2 separate regions of the Homo sapiens genome follow, and region 1 is linked to region 2. Evidence: fine-mapped expression QTL. Tissue or cell type: whole blood. Region 2 holds a variant in brackets; the other region holds the start of a gene. All regions are shown on one strand. Distances are from middle to middle.

Region 1 (8,103 bases), 270 kb before region 2:
GATCATGAGGTCAGGAGATCGAGACCATCCTGGCTAACACGGTGAAACCCCGTCTCTAATAAAAATACAAAAAATTAGTCGAGTGTGGTGGCAGGCGCCTGTAGTCCCAGCTACTTGGGAGGCTGAGGCAGCAGGATGGCGTGAACCCGGGAGGCAGAGCTTGCAGTGAGCCAAGATAGCGCCACTGCAGTCCAGCCTGGGCGAAAGAGTGAGACTCCGTCTCAAAAAAAAAAAAAAAAAAAAAAAAAACAAGTTAGAATATATTCAGGTTTATCCCTATAATCACGTCTCTTTCAGTCATTTGTTTTTGAGAGGAAAGAGAAGGGTGGAATTTAGCTGTTTTGAATTTAGCTTTTAGCTGTTTTGAAATGTTATTTGCATGCTGGCTCATCTGGAGGCCACGGTCCAGATGCTCTCAGAATTTAGCACCATCAGAATTACCTGCAGGCTTGTTAAGCTCAGATTTCTGGAAATCACCGTTTTTTTTTTTTCGAGACAGGGTCTCACTCTCTCACCGAGACTGGAGCGCAGTGGCATGATTTCAGCTCACCACAACCCCCACCTCCCAGGCTCAAGCGATTCTCCTGCCTCAGACTCCCAAGTAGCTGGGATTACAGGTGTGCACCACTACCGCCTGGCTAATTTTTATATAGGCGTGAGGGTCCGTGCCCAGTTTCAGAGCTCTTGATATAGGAAGTCTACAGTGGGGTCCAAGAATGTGCATTTCCAAGAAGATCCCAAATGACGCTGACGCTGCTGATTGGTGGAGTCACAGTTTGAGAGCAGCTGCCACAACCTAAATAGGCAATAATAAATAAACAATCAAAGTATTATTAGTAGCTGTGGCTACTTTGAATTATTGTAGTGCTTTACTTATCTTCAACATTTTTGGCTTTCACCAAAATCCATGTATATCCATGGAAATGTGTCCCATAAGTCAAAATGTCTGTCTTGTGTGTTGCAAATGATCAAAGATTAAGGACCAATTGCTTCCATAGAACATTCAGGAGCATTTCCATCTTAGAGTACAAGTGCTACAGTCATTCATCTAAACATGTCTCAAGTTCACCAATTTATCCTGGTGAATTTATCTACACTTTCGAAAGAACTATTATTATTACTATTTATTTGAAAGAAACAGGGTCTTACTCTGTCACCCAGGCTGGGGTGCAGTGGCGAGATCATAGCTCATTGCAGCCTTAAATTCCTGGGCTTAAGTGGTCCTCCCACCTCTGCCTCCAGAGTAGCTGAGACAATAGGCATGCACCACCACAACCAGCTAGTTTTTAAAATTTTTTTTGTAGAGACAAAGTCACGCTGTGTTGTCTAGGCTGGTCTCGAACTCCTGGTAAGAGTAAAACTATTAGCATTCAAGGTATAATTATTTAAAGTATAATTATTACTATTCTATTTTATGTTGACTATTGCAATAGCTTCCTGTCTCCCAAGTTATCCATGTGAAGCCAGACAAATCTTTTTAAAATGCAATTTTTGTTGTTGTTGTTTTGTTTTTTGAAGTTGAGTCTCTTTTTATTGTCCAGTCTGGAGTGCAGTGGCCTGATCTCAGCTCACTGCAACCTCCACCTCCCTGGTTCAAGCGATTCTCCTGCCTCAGCTCCTGAGTAGCTGGGATTACAAGCACACGCCACCACACCCGGCTATTTTTTGTATTTTTACTAGAGACAGGATTTCATCTTTCTGGCCAGGCTGCTCTTGAACTCCTGACCTCGTGATCCACCCACCTCAGCCTCTCAAAGTGCTGGGATTACAGGCGTGAGCCACCACGCCCGGTCCTAAAACGCAAATTTGATCCTGCCACCGCTTGCATAAAACTCTCCAGTCCTCCCAATCTTCTCAGGAAAAAGTCCAGTACCTTTAACACAGCTTACATGACCTGGCCCCTGTCCACCTTACAAACTACTCCCCTCCAACCACAAGGACATTCTTTCAGTTCTTCATTCTCAACTAGCATGCTCCTTTCACTTGCAGGGTCTTAGCACCATACTGTCCTCTCACTCAGAAATATTCCTTCCCCCTTATCTTATTAACTCTTCCTCTTTCTTCGTTGCTCAGTTTATGCCATTTCCTCAAGAAAGCCTTCCCTGTTTCTCCCAAGCCAGGTCAATCTCCTCTGTGACATGATTTTATAGAACCATGTTCCATTCCTTCAGACCACTAACTCCTTTTATCTAGGGTCTTCATGTGTTGTCTGCAGGAGAGAAGGACCGAAACTGTTTTGTTTTGTTTTGTTTTGTTTGAGTCAGATTCTTGCTCTGTCGCCCATGCTGGAGTGCAGTGGTGCCATCTCGGCTCACTGCAACCTCCACTTCCCGGGTTCAAGAGGTTTTCCCATCTCAGCCTCCCGAGTAGTTGGGACTACAGGTACCCATCACCAAGCCCAGCTAATTTTTGTAGTATTTTTAGTAGAGATGGCTTTTCACCATGTTGGCCAGGCTGGTGTCCAACCCCTGACCTCAAGTGATCCACTTGCTTCAGTCTCCCAAAGTGCTGGATTACAAGCGTGAGAGACTGCACCAGGCCCCAAGACTGTTTTTACTACCACTGTATTTCTAGTGCCTGGTACAACACATTGTAAGTGTCAGTAAACATATGTTGGATAAAATTTTAAAATGCATGTTTATTTTCTCAGTCCCTACTATGCAGCAAATCCTATGCTGGGCCCTAAAGGGGAACCAAGGTTAGTAAGAGAAATGCTTGACCTTAAGGAACTCCATGCCAGTTAGAAGCAATGGATCCGTAAACCAAAAGTATCTGAGACCAGTCTCAATCGAGAAAGTTTATATTGCCAAGGTGAAGGATGCGATGATAACACGGCCTCAGGAGCTCCTCAGGACATGTGCCCAAGGTGCGGGTACAGTTTGGTTTTATACATTTTAGGGAGACATGAGTCATCGATCAATACATGTAAGATGTACGTTGGTTAGGATCGGAAAGACGGGCTAACTCGGGGCAGTGGGGGGCTTCTACCTTATAGGTAGACTTAAAGATTTTTTGATTGGTAATTGGTTGAAAGAGTTATTATCTAAAGACCTGGAAGTAAATAGAAAGAAATATCTGGGTTATGATTATAAGGGGTTGTGGAGACCAAGGTTTTATCATGCAGATGAGGCTTCCAGGTAGCCTGCTATTCAGACAGAATAGATTGTAAATATTTCTTATCAGTCTTGAGTCTACCAGTCTTAAGGTCTCTGTGTTGATGTTTGTGAGGCATGTCTGACTACCACTTCCCATCATGGCCTGAACTAGTTTTTCAGGATAAATTGGAATGTCCTTGGCTTCAGATAGGGTCCACCAGTCAGTTGGGGGGCTTAGACTTTTATTTTTGGTTTACAGATATCACATGGACTATAGAGACACATTTCTGTAACAGAGTAGAAGTGCAACATGAGAAGAACAAAGTGCTTTAGGCGACAAGCGGAGGAGGGAGACATCAATCCCAGATGGGAAAAATCAATTCACTTTCTGTGTGTGGTGTTACTTATTTATTTATTTTTTGCAGGGAAGGGATCGATTCATTCAACGTACACCTTGAATGAATAACTATAGTTCTCCCTACGTCCTATGCACTGTCCTAAGTGTTTTACGTGGTTAAGGACACTAAGATTTTACAGATGGGGAAAACAATGCACACGACAGTCAAGTGACCCGCTCAACGTCACACAGCTACTAAGTGGTAGAAAAGGCAGTTGAACCCAGGCTGCTTGGCTCCAGAGTCTAATATCACGGGGAAAACCTCACGGGAGACGTGGCAACGAAGTTGTGCTTCATTGAAGTATCTGTCCAGGTGGAAAACCGCAGGGCCTCTCTAGCAAAATCCAGAACCAGAAAATACTTGCTTAATTATGAGTTTCCTTCCTTCTTTTGCCCACTATCCCCATTTAACCTGCGGAGGGATTTCAGAAGTGCAGTGAATAAAGATGCAGGGGACTATGGAACACTAATTTCCGGCTACGGCGAATTCAGGCTGTTTCCATGGAAACAGTAACGGGTGGGCAGCTAGGTATAGTCTCGCGGTGCTTGAACCAGCGGAAGTGACGTCGCCGCTCGCGAGGACCTCAGGTGGATCGCCGCGGCCCCTCCTCCCAGAGCGGCAGCCTTTTCCCGCGCGTGCTGCCTTCGCCGCTCGGGCCGCCCGGGGGAAAACATGGCGTCTGCCCTGGAGCAGTTCGTGAACAGTGTCCGACAGCTCTCAGCTCAAGGTAACGCCCTAGGCCGCCGGGCTGGGCATGGGCGGGTACCGGGAACTGGCCTGGATCCCCAGGCGCCAGCACGGACGGCTGGAACAGCCCTTTTAGTCCTGAGACTCTTCTCCGGGGCCGGGCTTGGGGTTGCGGCGTTTAGATCAGGGCAGGATCGAGCGCGGCCGAGTGTAGGCAGCCCCCTCGCGCTCCGCTGTCCTCGCCGGCCGGCCTCCCCTCCCTCGGGCCGCCGGGAGCCCCCTCCCCCCGGCCTGGGCCCCTTCCACCGGGCGCTTTGCTTGACAGTTTGGGGGCGTGACTTCCGCCAGGAGCCATCTCGGGCGACTATTGGTTCCTTCTGTCTCTCTTGCCTTCGGTGATTGGCGCACCGCCATGTCATCTTTGCCGCCGATCCGCAGCTTGCTGACTAGGCCGCCGGGAGCGGGCGGGAGGCGAGTCCGTTCTGGGTGTCTTGGCTCTATGGCTCGCCTCTGCCAGCTCCTCCGCTGCCAGGCGGCGCACGCTCGGGAACCTGTGCGCCTATTTTGGTCCTACAGAATGCTGCGGAAGCTCTCGCTCGTAGGACTCCATTTCTTCTTCTTTGTTTTTTTTTAGCCGAGGCTGGAGTGCAGTGGCGCGATCTCGGCTCACTGCAACCTCAGCCTCCCGGCTTCAAGCGATTCTCCTGTCTCAGCCTCCCGAGTAGCTGAGATTACAGGCGCCCGCCAGCTCACACGGCTTTTTTTTTTTTTGAGACGGAGTCTCACTGTCTCCCAGGCTGGAGTGCAGTGGCGCGGTCTCGGCTCACCTCAACCTTCGCCTTCGAGGTTCAAGCGATTCTCCTGTCTCAGCCTCCCGAGTAGCTGGGATTACAGGCGCCTGCCCGGCTAATTTTTGTATTTTTAGTAGAGACAGGGTTTCACCATGTTGGCCTGGCTGGTCTCGAACCTTGATCTCAGGTGATCCACTGGCCTCGGCCTCCCAAAGTGCTGGGATTACAGGCATGAGCCACCGCGGCCAGCCCACGCGGCTAATTTTTTCGTATTTTTAATAGAGATGGGGTTTTTACCATGTTGGCCAAGCTGGTTTCGAACTCCTCACCTGAAGTGATCCGCCCACCTCGGCCTCCCAAAGTGCTAGGATTACAGGCGTGAGCCACTGCGCCCGGCCAGGACTCCATTTCTAGGGGTAGAATTGTGATGATTTTACTCGCACTTTCCAGGTTGTTTGGTTCATTCATTGCGTATGAATGTACCGAATTCTGGACCTGAAATTCGAATGATTAGATGCTGGCTGTGAAGGCCCTTTTAACTATCCCGTGCTTCAGTTTCTTCGTCTGCAAAATAAGTCCCTAGTTTATGTAGAGTTGTGAAGATTCAATGAGAGAAACCATGTAAAAGCAGTTGGAACAGTGCCTGTCATAAGGGGTGCAATAAATATAGCTGCAAATTATTGTTACCGTCATTAATTGCAAAGTTCTAGGAGCTGCTTGACCTTGGACAAATAACCTTTAATCTCTGAGTCTTTTGCATCTCCATTGTAAAAATGGAGGGGTGCTTTTACCTCACTGGTGTAAGACAAATGGTCTGATATGGAGCTGCACTTAATAAGAATTCTTCCTCTTTTTCCTTTTTATTAATAGAAATGAGGTTCACAGGGAAGGCACAGGCTTGCCTTTTCTATGAATAAAGGAACCACTGGTTTGTTAATTTATTCGACAAATACTTAGTGTTCTCCTTCCTGGGGTGTAGTGTAGTTAGAAGCTTCAGGTTGAAATCCTGTCGCGGTCACTTCTTGGGTGAACCACTTAATTTCCCTGGGCCAATTTTCTTAATTACAAAACAGAACTAGGGCTGTTGTGGTCTTCAGGTTATAGGATGCTATAGGAACAGTCTGCTAGACAGAGATAAATATGGTAACTTTCATTGCTGTCGGCTACTGTGCCTCACACTCACTGGATAGGAAATCTTTGAGTTTCAGGCCAGGCGCAGTGGCTCACTCCTGTAATTCCAGCACTTTGGGAGGCCGAGGCGGGCGGATCATCTGAGGTCAGGAGTTCAAGACCACCCTGGCCAACATGGTGAAACCCTGTCTCTACTAAAAATGCAAAATTAGCCAGGCATGGTGGCGGGCGCCTGTAATCTCAGCTACTCGGGAGGCTGAGGCAGGAGAATGGCATGAACCTGGGAGGTGGAGCTTGCAGTGAGCCAAGATCGCGCCACTGCCCTCCAGTCTGGGTGACAGAGCAAGACTCCGTCTCAAAAAAAAAAAAAAGAAAAAAAAGAATTTTATTGGCCACATCTCTGGTTACACTGATTTCAAATGCACTCTGTGACACTTAAACTTTTTTTTTTTACTCTGCCCTTGGCCCTGCACTAATTAATTATCTGGTGATTTCATAGTGACCCAGCTTTTATTTCAGTCTCAACTGGGCACTGATTGTTAACTAGTAGAGAACTAATGGATTGCAATGCTTATTTCTGGGTGTTACAAATTATTGTTAATATATTTAGAGTAATGGTTTACAAAGGCAAATTATTCAACTAGAAGTTACTTCATACCTACCAGTGAGATCTGTAATACAATGATGATGAGTTGGTATTTCCCAGTTAAATCTGTGTGATCTCAAGAGGTGACACCTAATAAGATCACAGCTGTTTTATTCTTGTTTTGTAATGCATGTATAATAATGATACATTTCCTTTGCTTTCAGTAAAATGTATCAAATTGAAAAGTGTTAAATTATCAAAAGTACCTAGCTATAGTCACTTGTATTTTAAGCATTATACTATGTTGTATTCTTTTAGTAAGGAAAAGATTATGCAGTTGCTCTGTAGAAATAGAGAAGTTGGAAACTTGAGGTTAATGCCCATGGACTTAAATATATCCTCACTGTTACCAGAAAGACAGAGTGTGACCATGGTATCTGTCATGACAGTAATTGTCAAAATTGATGGGTCTACTTAAAGGTACCAATTCAGGCCTAATTTTTTTTTTCCCCCGAAACGGAGTCTTGCTCTGTTGCCCAGGCTGGAGTACAGTGGCGCAATCTCAGCTCACTGCAGCCTCCATCTCCCGGGTTCAAGGATTGTCCCAGGTTAAAGGATTCTCCCACCTCAGCCTCCCGAGTAGCTGGGATTACAGGTGTGTGCCACCACACCCAGCTAATTTTTGTATTTTTAGTGGAGACAGGGTTTCACCATGTTGGCCAGCCTGGTCTTGAACTCCTGACCTCGAGATATCTGCCCACCTTATCCTCCCAAAGTGCTGGGATTACAGGTGTGAGCCAGCCTGGTCTTGAACTCCTGACCTCGAGAGATCTGCCCACCTTATCCTCCCAAAGTGCTGGGATTACAGGTGTGAGCCACAGCACCCGGCTGAGGCCTAATTATTAATAGATTCTGTACCTTAGTTGTTAAAATGTAGCATTGCAGGCTGAGTGTGGTGGCTCATGCCTCTAATCCCAGCACTTTGGGAGGCCAAGGTGGGAGGATTGCTTGAGCCCAGGAGTTAGAGACCAGACTGGGCAACATAGTGAGACCCCTGTCTCTGCAAAAAACTTAAAAAATAAGATGGGCATGGTGACGTACACCTGTAGTTCCAGCTACTCGGGAGGCTAAGGTGGGAGGATTGCTTGAGCCCAGGAGATGGAGGCTGCGTTGAGCTGTGATCACACCACTGCACTGCAGCCTGAGCGACAGAATGAGACCCTGTCTCAAAAAACAAAACAAAACAAACATAGTATTGCAGTATAGGGGAAAAATAGATCAATTAGGAGATTAATTCAACAAGTAGCTGCTTGATGAACTGCTAAGCAGGTGATGTATTCTAGAGCTGGAGAAAGGGACAATCCCTCCACCTGAGTTTACTGAAATACCTAACCACTACAGTCCCATGCGAGGCA
Region 2 (8,103 bases):
CGGAATCCGAAAGTGGAGTGTGGTGTGGCTGGCAGAGCAGGCTGCCCAAGGGAGCCAGGAGAGGGGAGGACGGAAGGGGTGGGAGCCGTCTTCTCCAAGGCTGCTGTAATGCTGACCTAGAGAAGACCCCCAGAGTGGGGCATGTCCCACACTCAGCTGGCCCTGCTCCTGCCACCAGGCCTGGCACACATCGGATGCTCCCTGAGTCATGTCGAGGAAGGAATGTCTAACACTTGAAAATATTCTAGAGCCATAAAGATAGTCCTGGTTGGACCCAGACCAAACCTCAAATTGGTCCCAAGGAAGATTTCACAACTTCCTTTGAGAGATGCCTCTCAGTGTCGCCTGGCGCGATTCAGGAAGTCCTTCTTGAGAGCTAACCTAAATCCTTCCTGCTCGCCCTCCTCATGCTTGGGAGAGGAGGCAGCAAGGAGGGGGGGACAGGTGGGCCTCTCGCCTCAGAGCCCATATGAGGTCCCGAGAAGGTGAGGCTGGGCCCTGACTCAGCTTCAGCACACACTATTTCCATTCCCTTCCCGTGACTCAACAGGGGAGGGGCCCGGGGGCCACTCACCTCTGTCTTCTCAACCTGCAACTCCCCCCACCCCTTCCTGGATTCCTGTGACGCAGGAATCCCTCTGGTCTGTGTGGAGGAACCCAGAGCAACTTGAGCCAGAAGTGGATGTCCAAGCCGGCATGAGTCACCCCTCAAAATCAGGACCAGTGAGGGCCTGAAGAGGCCACACAGCCTCCGGCAGCCTGGCCGCCGCTCACTTCTCTGGGAAAGTGGCCTGGAGCTCGCATGGCATCTGGGCCCAGCCTCTGCCTCTGACCTGCACTGACCCCTGTGTCACCCGCCTCCAGGGTGACCCTCCTCCTGGCATTCAGACAGCTCCACTCACTGCTTCGCACAAACCTGTGCCACCCTGGTTCAAACATTAACCAGCTGTGTGACTTTTTAGAAGCCCTTCCCATGTTTAAAAACCAAGCTGGGAGGATGCTGCACCACTGCCATCATGGTTCTCACTGAACCGTCGCAGGAAAAAGCATTTCTTGCGCCATGGCTGTGTGCAGAACAGGCTTCCCACGGCTGAGTCCCCAAGCCCCCCACAGACGCTGCCAATGAAATGCCGTCAGCCTCAAGCATGGTTCTTGGTACCCAGCCCTGGTAAAACCACGTGTCTCAGGCCTTCTGAACCACAGTGCCCAGAACTCTGGCTGGGCTTTGTCCCAGAGGACAAGACTGGCCAACCCCCTGCTGAGCTGGAAGAATAGCTCCCTCAGCTGGCAGGGACCTGCCCCTGTTGCAATTTGGACTGAGTAAATGCTGACAGGAGGAGACTGCGTGTCAGGCCAGGATAGACAGAGGCAAACTCTGTACCCTCAGAGAGCTTAGAAGCTAGGGTTGGAAAGCATGGGAAAGGGTCAGACACCCAAGAGAAACAAGTGCTGATGTCCACCAAAAGAAAACTTACTGCATTCTATAAACTAAAAACAAACAAATGTTCTCCTGCATTGCATAGCAGAGGAAAAGACCAAATGACTCTTCCATGCAACAAGTTAGATGAATCTCGCAGATAAAGTCAGACAAAAGAATCCAGACGCAAAAGAGCATGCACAGTATGGAGGTCAAAAACAGGCAAGGTTGGGTGCGGTGGCTCACGCCTGTAGTCCCAACACTTTGGGAGGCTGAGGCAGGTGGATTACGAGGTCAGGAGATCGAGACCATCCTGGCTAACACAGTGAAACCCCTTCTCTACTAAATATACAAAAAATTAGCCGGGCGGGGCGGCGGGCGCCTGTAGTCCCAGCTACTCACGCGCTGAGGCAGGAGAATGGCGTGAACCCGGGAGGCAGAGCTTGCAGTGAGCCGAGATGGTGCCACGGCACTCCAGCCTGTGTGACAGAGCGAGACTCCGTCTCAAAAAAAAAAAACAAAAAAAAAACAGGCAAAAGTCATCTATGGAGACAGAAGTCCTGGTGGTGGTTTCTTGGTGGGGCTGGTGGAGGATGGGGTTATTGACGGGAAGGAGGCACCAGGGAGCTTTCTGGGGTCCTGGAAATGTTCCATGTCTTCATCTGGGGTGTGATGACGGGGTGGACACATTTGTTAAAAGGCATTGATTTGCACACCAACATTTGTGTACTTTGCTGTAAATTTTCCCACACTTTAAGAAGAAGAGGAGGGAAGAAGAACCCTTGGGGAGACCAGCTGGGACCCCCTGCTGCTGACTCGCGGGCGTTGCTTCGTGCCCCATGATTGTCAAGCCATTGAGGCCTCCTGGCAGCCTGGTAGACCTAGAACTATCTATGCCAATAAGACACAGATTGTTGGCTCCACCACCAGTTTCTGAATCAGGAGGTCTAGGGGGGCCTTGGAATTCACATTTCCTGCAGCCTGCAGGCCATGCTGGGGCTCTGGCCCAGGAACTGTGCTTTAGAAGAGACGGTAGAACATGGTACTGGCTACAGAATGTGCTGTGAGATCCCTCCAAGCTGGGAAGGACCCAGGTAAGTTCACAGAGGAGGTGCCCTTGAAAGATCAGTAAGATCTGAAAACGCCCAAATAAGCAGGAACTGCTGGTTCCAGGGAGGGAAGTCAGTGTGAGGCAAAGTAGAGAGGCTGGGAAGTGCAGCGAACGGCATTCCAGCCCTCAGGAGGGCAGGGCTGGCAGACAGATGTCTGAGTCCATTTCGTGCTGCTATAACAGAATACCTGAGACTGGGTCATTTATAATAATCAGACATTTATGTGGCTCATAATTCTGGAGGCTGGGAAGCCCAAGGGCATGGTGCTGGCCTGAGCCCAGCATTTGGTGAGGGCCTTCTTGCTGCCTCATCCCATGGTGGAAATCAGGAGGGTAAGAGACCAAACTCACAGTCTCAAGGCCTTTTATAATCAGCATTAACCCATGCGTGACGGTGGGCACCTTATAACCTAAACACCTCCTATTAGGCCCCAGCTCCCAATACCATTGCACCGGGGATTAAGTGTTGAATACACGCCTTTTGGGGGACACATGCAACCCACAGAAAGAGGACATTGAGGCTTCTGCTTAGAAGGTTTTGTTCTGCATGATAAAGCTTGAAAATAGGAGGAAGCTCCAGAAAAATGGCCCTCCCCCACCCCTACCAGGGGATTATGTTCCAAAGTCAGAAAGTGAGGCACAAACCACATGTGGTCATTTACCTGTGACAACCTGTGATTGGCCTATGAAGGTAGATAGCCTAGCTCAGTGCTAAAGGGCCGGAGCAGATGCTGAGTTCACTGGCTGAGTGCCAGGTAAAGCCATCCGTGTGCACTGAGTGCTCATATTGGATGACAAACCTGGACAAAGAGCCCTCCAGCCCTTCCCTGTAACAAGCAGGAGCCGGGGCAGAAGGGCAGAGGTGCAGCACAGCTGGGTCTAATGTGGGGAGCAATGTGGGGCAGGGGCAGGGCCAGGGCCAGGAAAGGGGCCTGCAGCTGTTGGTAGGCTAGCGGGTAAACAAACCCATTACAGTGGAGGTGTGCTGCTGACCGCCTTTCCTACAAGCTCATGGGCCGCCTTCACAGCACTTCCCCTGCTGCTTTTTCAGTGTAATCTTACAGCTATTCTGTCAAGACACCATGTTAAACACTAGTGGAAAAGTCACTGTGCAGAATTACCATATAATCTAGTAATTCCGCTTTTGGGTATATACCAAAAAATACCCCAAAAATAATTGAGATCAGGGTCTCCAACAGATGTTTGTTCACCCATGTTTATAGCAGCATTCTTTTTTTTTTGAGACGGAGTCTCACTCTGTTGCCTAGGCTGGAGCGCAGTGGCGTGATCTC[A/G]GCTCACTATAGCAGCATTCTTTACAACAACGAAAAGGTGGAAGCCACCCAAATGACCATCGATAAACAAAAATGTGGTCTGTGCGTACAATGAAATATTATTCAGTCTTACAAAGGAAGGAAATTCTGGCACATGCTACAATATGGAAGAACGTGAGGGCGTAATATTCCGTGAAAAGACAAACTCTATATGATTCCACTTATACGAGCTAAGGGAAGGGGAATGGGGAGTTACTGTTTACTGTTCATTGGAGACAGTTTCAATTTGAGGAAGATGAAAAAGTTCTTTTTTTTTTTTTTTAAGAGACGGAGTCTCGCTCTGTCGCCCAGGCTAGAGTGCAGTGGCCCTATCTCGGCTCACTGCAAGCTCCGCCTCCTGGGTTCACGCCATTCTCCTGCCTCAGCGTCTGAGTAGCTGGGACTACAGGCGCCCGCCACCACGCCCGCCTAATTTTTTGTATTTTTAGCAGAGACGGGGTTTCACCGTGTTAGCCAGGATGGCCTCGATCTCCTGACCTTGTGATCTGCCCACCTTGGCCTCCCAAAGCATTGAGATTACAGGCGTGAGCCACCGCACCCGGCGAAAAAGTTCTTGAGATGGACGATGGTAATGGTTGCACAACAATGAGACTGTGCTTAGTGCCACTGAACTGTGCATTTCACGATGGTCAAGATGGTAAGTTTTATGTGGACAAAAAGAACACGCTATGTGTGGAGGGGTGCAGTGGCTGGAACCCCAGCACTTTGGGAGGCTGAGACAGGCGGATTACTTGAGGTCAGGAGTTCGAGAGCAGTCTGGCCAATGTGGTGAAACCCCGTCTCTACTAAAAATACAAAAATTAGCCAGGCGTGGTGGCGCACGCCTGTAATACCAGCTACTTGGGAGGCTGAGGTGGGAGAATTGCTTCAACCTGGGAGGTGGAGGTTGCAGTGAGCCGAGATTGTGCCATTGCAGTCCAGCCTGGGCGAAGAGTGAGACTCCGCCTCAGGAAAAAAAAAAAAAAAAAAAAAGAACATGCTATGTTTGTATTTAGGATCTAGGTTTAGCTACGTCTAACAACAGTGGCTTTAACAAGACAGAGGTTCATTTCTCCAGCACACTGTCTAGGGGTGGCAGGGCAGTTCAGGGCTGCGGTGGCAACTCTGCTCCATGCAGTTATTCAGGGATCCACCCTTCTCTCTCCCATCCCTAGGGTGTTTCTCTTGTCCATGTAGCTCAAGACAGTGCACCATCATGTCCACATCCTAAACAGCAGGGTTAAGAAAGTATGGAAAAGGGCTTGCCCTCCCCTTAATAATTTTTTTTTTTTTTTTAAGAGACTGGGTCTCACTCTGTCACCCAGGCTGCAGTACAGTGGCACCATCATAGCTCACTGCAGCCTAGCCTGGGCTCTAGCAATCCTCCCACCTCAGCTTTCTGAGTAGCTGGGACTATAGCCACATGCCACCATGTCCAGCTGAATTTTTTTTTGGTATTTTTTGTAGAAATGGGGTCTCGTTATGTTGCCCAGGCAGGCCTTGAACTCCTGGCCTCAAGTGAGCCTCCCACCTCGGCCTCCCATAGCTCTGGGATTACAGGCATGAGCCACTGTGCACAGCCAGCTCCCACCTCTCTTGAAGCACTGTCATTTGGGGCCTCTGTTCTAGAAGGGGGTGCAGTTGCTGCTTGGTGTGTTGTCCATCCCCTCCACAGGATGGCAGCTGCATTTAATCTCCCGTGGCCACCATGGAGGTGCTCTTCTCAGGTCGGCCTTCAAGAGAGAAGCCTCTGCAAGAAGTGCAGTCAGCTGACAGCCTCCAGCTACTTGGGGATCTTCCGCCACATTCAAATCATCCTGCCCAACCTGGGACCCCAGTACTGGCCATCTTTGCTCCAGAGACCCCCTGGGGCCGGGTGAGGCTCCCCCGCCCAGCTCTCCAGTGGCCCCTCTCCTTCACAAGCATTGTGCTTGGTGCGCTCCATGCTCTCCCTGACTGCTCTGCCCCTCGCCCCTTTCTCCTTTACAGCTCCTTCTCCTAACACAGTTCTTGTATCTCTAACTCCAACCTGTTGTCTACTTCCCAGGGGAGCTGAACTGACACCTTTGCCCCAGGCCATATCCCCAGCACACAGACAAGTGCCTAGCACATAGTAGGCGCTCAACAGAATTTCCAAGTGAGCACAGAAAACACAGTGGGCAGTCAATACATGTGTGTTGAACTCAGCAAATTGCACAGCAGCTGGGAAACAGCCGTCGCCGGCTCCTCTGAGCGTGGTGCTCCCGCAGCCCGTGTCAGCTGCGGTGCTTTGCCAATGCAAACAGGAGTGGAGAGTTAGACCCAGGCCCACTCCAGCTGCTGGGCCCCTTGCTCAACACAGCCCCTTCCTGCCACCTGCAGGGTGGGGTCTTCCTGAGCCCGCAGAGGGCACAGAAGGAAATACCTGCTCCCGGCCATGCAGGCCTCCCTGGCATGGGCACCCTGAGAGTCCTGGTCCCGGGAGCCAGGAATAACAAAGAGGCTGCCAGGGCCGGGCCCCTGGGACCTGAGGGCTGAGGGCAGAGCATGCCTCCCTGGTTTGCTGGGCAGGAGGCTGATTGGGCTAAATGGACTTTGTTGATGGTGACCCTTTGTTCCTCCATGGCGGCTCCGTCTGAGGAGAAGTTTTGGAGGCTGTTCATTCTCCTGCTTCCCCTGCTGCCACCCCAGAGACAAGGAGAGCAGCCTCCCAGTGGCCTGTTGGTTTGTAAAAGAGTCAGGTGTGGGAGGTTGCATCACGTGCTTCTCTGGACTCGTGGTCTGCAAGGAGGTGTGACAAGTGTGGCTGTAGGTCGATGAGCTGTGTGCGGCTTGGTAACGGGCAGTGGATGAGCCAGGGGGAGCAGCAGGTGGCCCAGCCCCAGGGATGAACATGGGGGAACTGGGTCCGATGTAGGCAGGAAGGAGACATCAGCAGCAGCAGCCCAGGGGCGTGGTGGAGGGGTGCGGGGGGGCCAGAGACAAGCCAGAGATGCCTGGATGATCCATTTTGCAGAAATAACAATCTCGAATCCAGGGCTGGGCCTGGCTGTGGCTTGGCCTGGCCAAGGGTGGTGAGCAGCAGGTGTGCTGATTGTAGTTAAGAAGCCATCGGTGTCAGACCAGAGTCCCCGGGCTCTGCACCTGAGGCTGCTGCGAGAGGAAAGCGATAGGGGCTCAGGCATGCTGAGGAGGTAGGTGGGCACGTGAAGGTGGGCCTCCAGGAAGGGGACATGAATACAGCAGGTCTTGGAGCTTTCTCCTTCAGGGGCAGGGGCAGGAGGACGGCCACCTGGCTTCACCACGAAGGGCCCGAGAGCATGGCATGGAGGGAGAGGCAGATCTAGAGAGAACACCGGCCAGTCTGCGGAGGGAGGTGGAGGAATGGGTTGAAGAGGGAAGAATTCCTGACACAAACTCTGAAATGACAAAGGAAAAGAATGACAAATCCGATTACACAAACATGAGCAACTTCCAAAGACCAATCACAAAAAACAAAACAATCACAAAGTCCCCACCAACATGGCTGAAAATAAAACAATTAGCTGAGAAGAAATATTTGTCACCTACAGACCATGGCAGACAGAAGATTTTATTTTAAAGCACCCTACAAATCACTAAGAAAAAAGCCCCAAAGAAATAGCAATCTGGAAAAGGACACAAAAAGGGAACGTGCAGAAGAAGTGCCAGCAGCTGCCAAACCCACGGTCCACAAAATCCTGGATCAAACAGGCAGGAGACAGCATGACAAGGTGCCACTCTCTGCCCATCGGGTCGGCACAGATTTAAAAACAAGGACCTGGTATTGCCAAGGATGTGGGGAAAGAGCCCTGTGGGTGAGGGTGTCAATTGGACAATGGCTGTCAACTTCTAGAATAATCATGTGTGCTTCCCTTTGATCCAAGAATCCCGCTGGGGGAAATTATTCCTGTAGAAATGTTTGCTCAGGTGTGCGAAGACACCTGCGTAAGACTTTTCATCTCAGCATTGTGTGTGATGCTGATGCCACAGCGTGGTGCCTAGACACCTCCTGGAGAGGACCCAGAAGGCCCGGCCACAGGTGGGGGCCGTGTTGCCATGGTCCCTGCCCAGAGGATGCCTGGCTGGTGCGGGGCAAGAGGGAGGTGGTCCTAGAGGCAGCCTTGCCTTGATCTACCCACAGGAGCGCACTGGACAGGGGTCCTGTGAGTGTGGGATCAGGGTCCCCCAAGCCCCATCTGCCCTCTGGTGCCCAGTGGCATTGAGCAGTTGTCTTAGCCACTCTGACCTCCACATCCTCCTCTGTG

Evidence for each region. PIP is the estimated chance that this variant, and not a neighbour inherited with it, causes the effect.
Region 1: COPS3 starts here. The variant in region 2 is fine-mapped to the expression of COPS3 in whole blood (INTERVAL, PIP 0.99).

Annotation. Positions count from the first base shown.
Region 1 is chr17:17,277,249-17,285,351 of GRCh38, reverse strand. COPS3 (COP9 signalosome subunit 3) reads left to right here and starts at 4,106. Exons shown (of 12, transcript NM_003653.4): 1 at 4,106-4,220. The coding sequence starts at 4,166. RefSeq lists enhancers at 3,909-4,008, 4,659-4,718 and a silencer at 4,229-4,468.
Region 2 is chr17:17,003,359-17,011,461 of GRCh38, reverse strand. No RefSeq gene overlaps it. Among named protein-coding and RNA genes, the nearest start is that of LINC02090, 19 kb to the right of the region's middle. RefSeq lists enhancers at 1-374, 6,200-6,728. The variant A/G (reference allele first, on the strand shown) is at 3,821.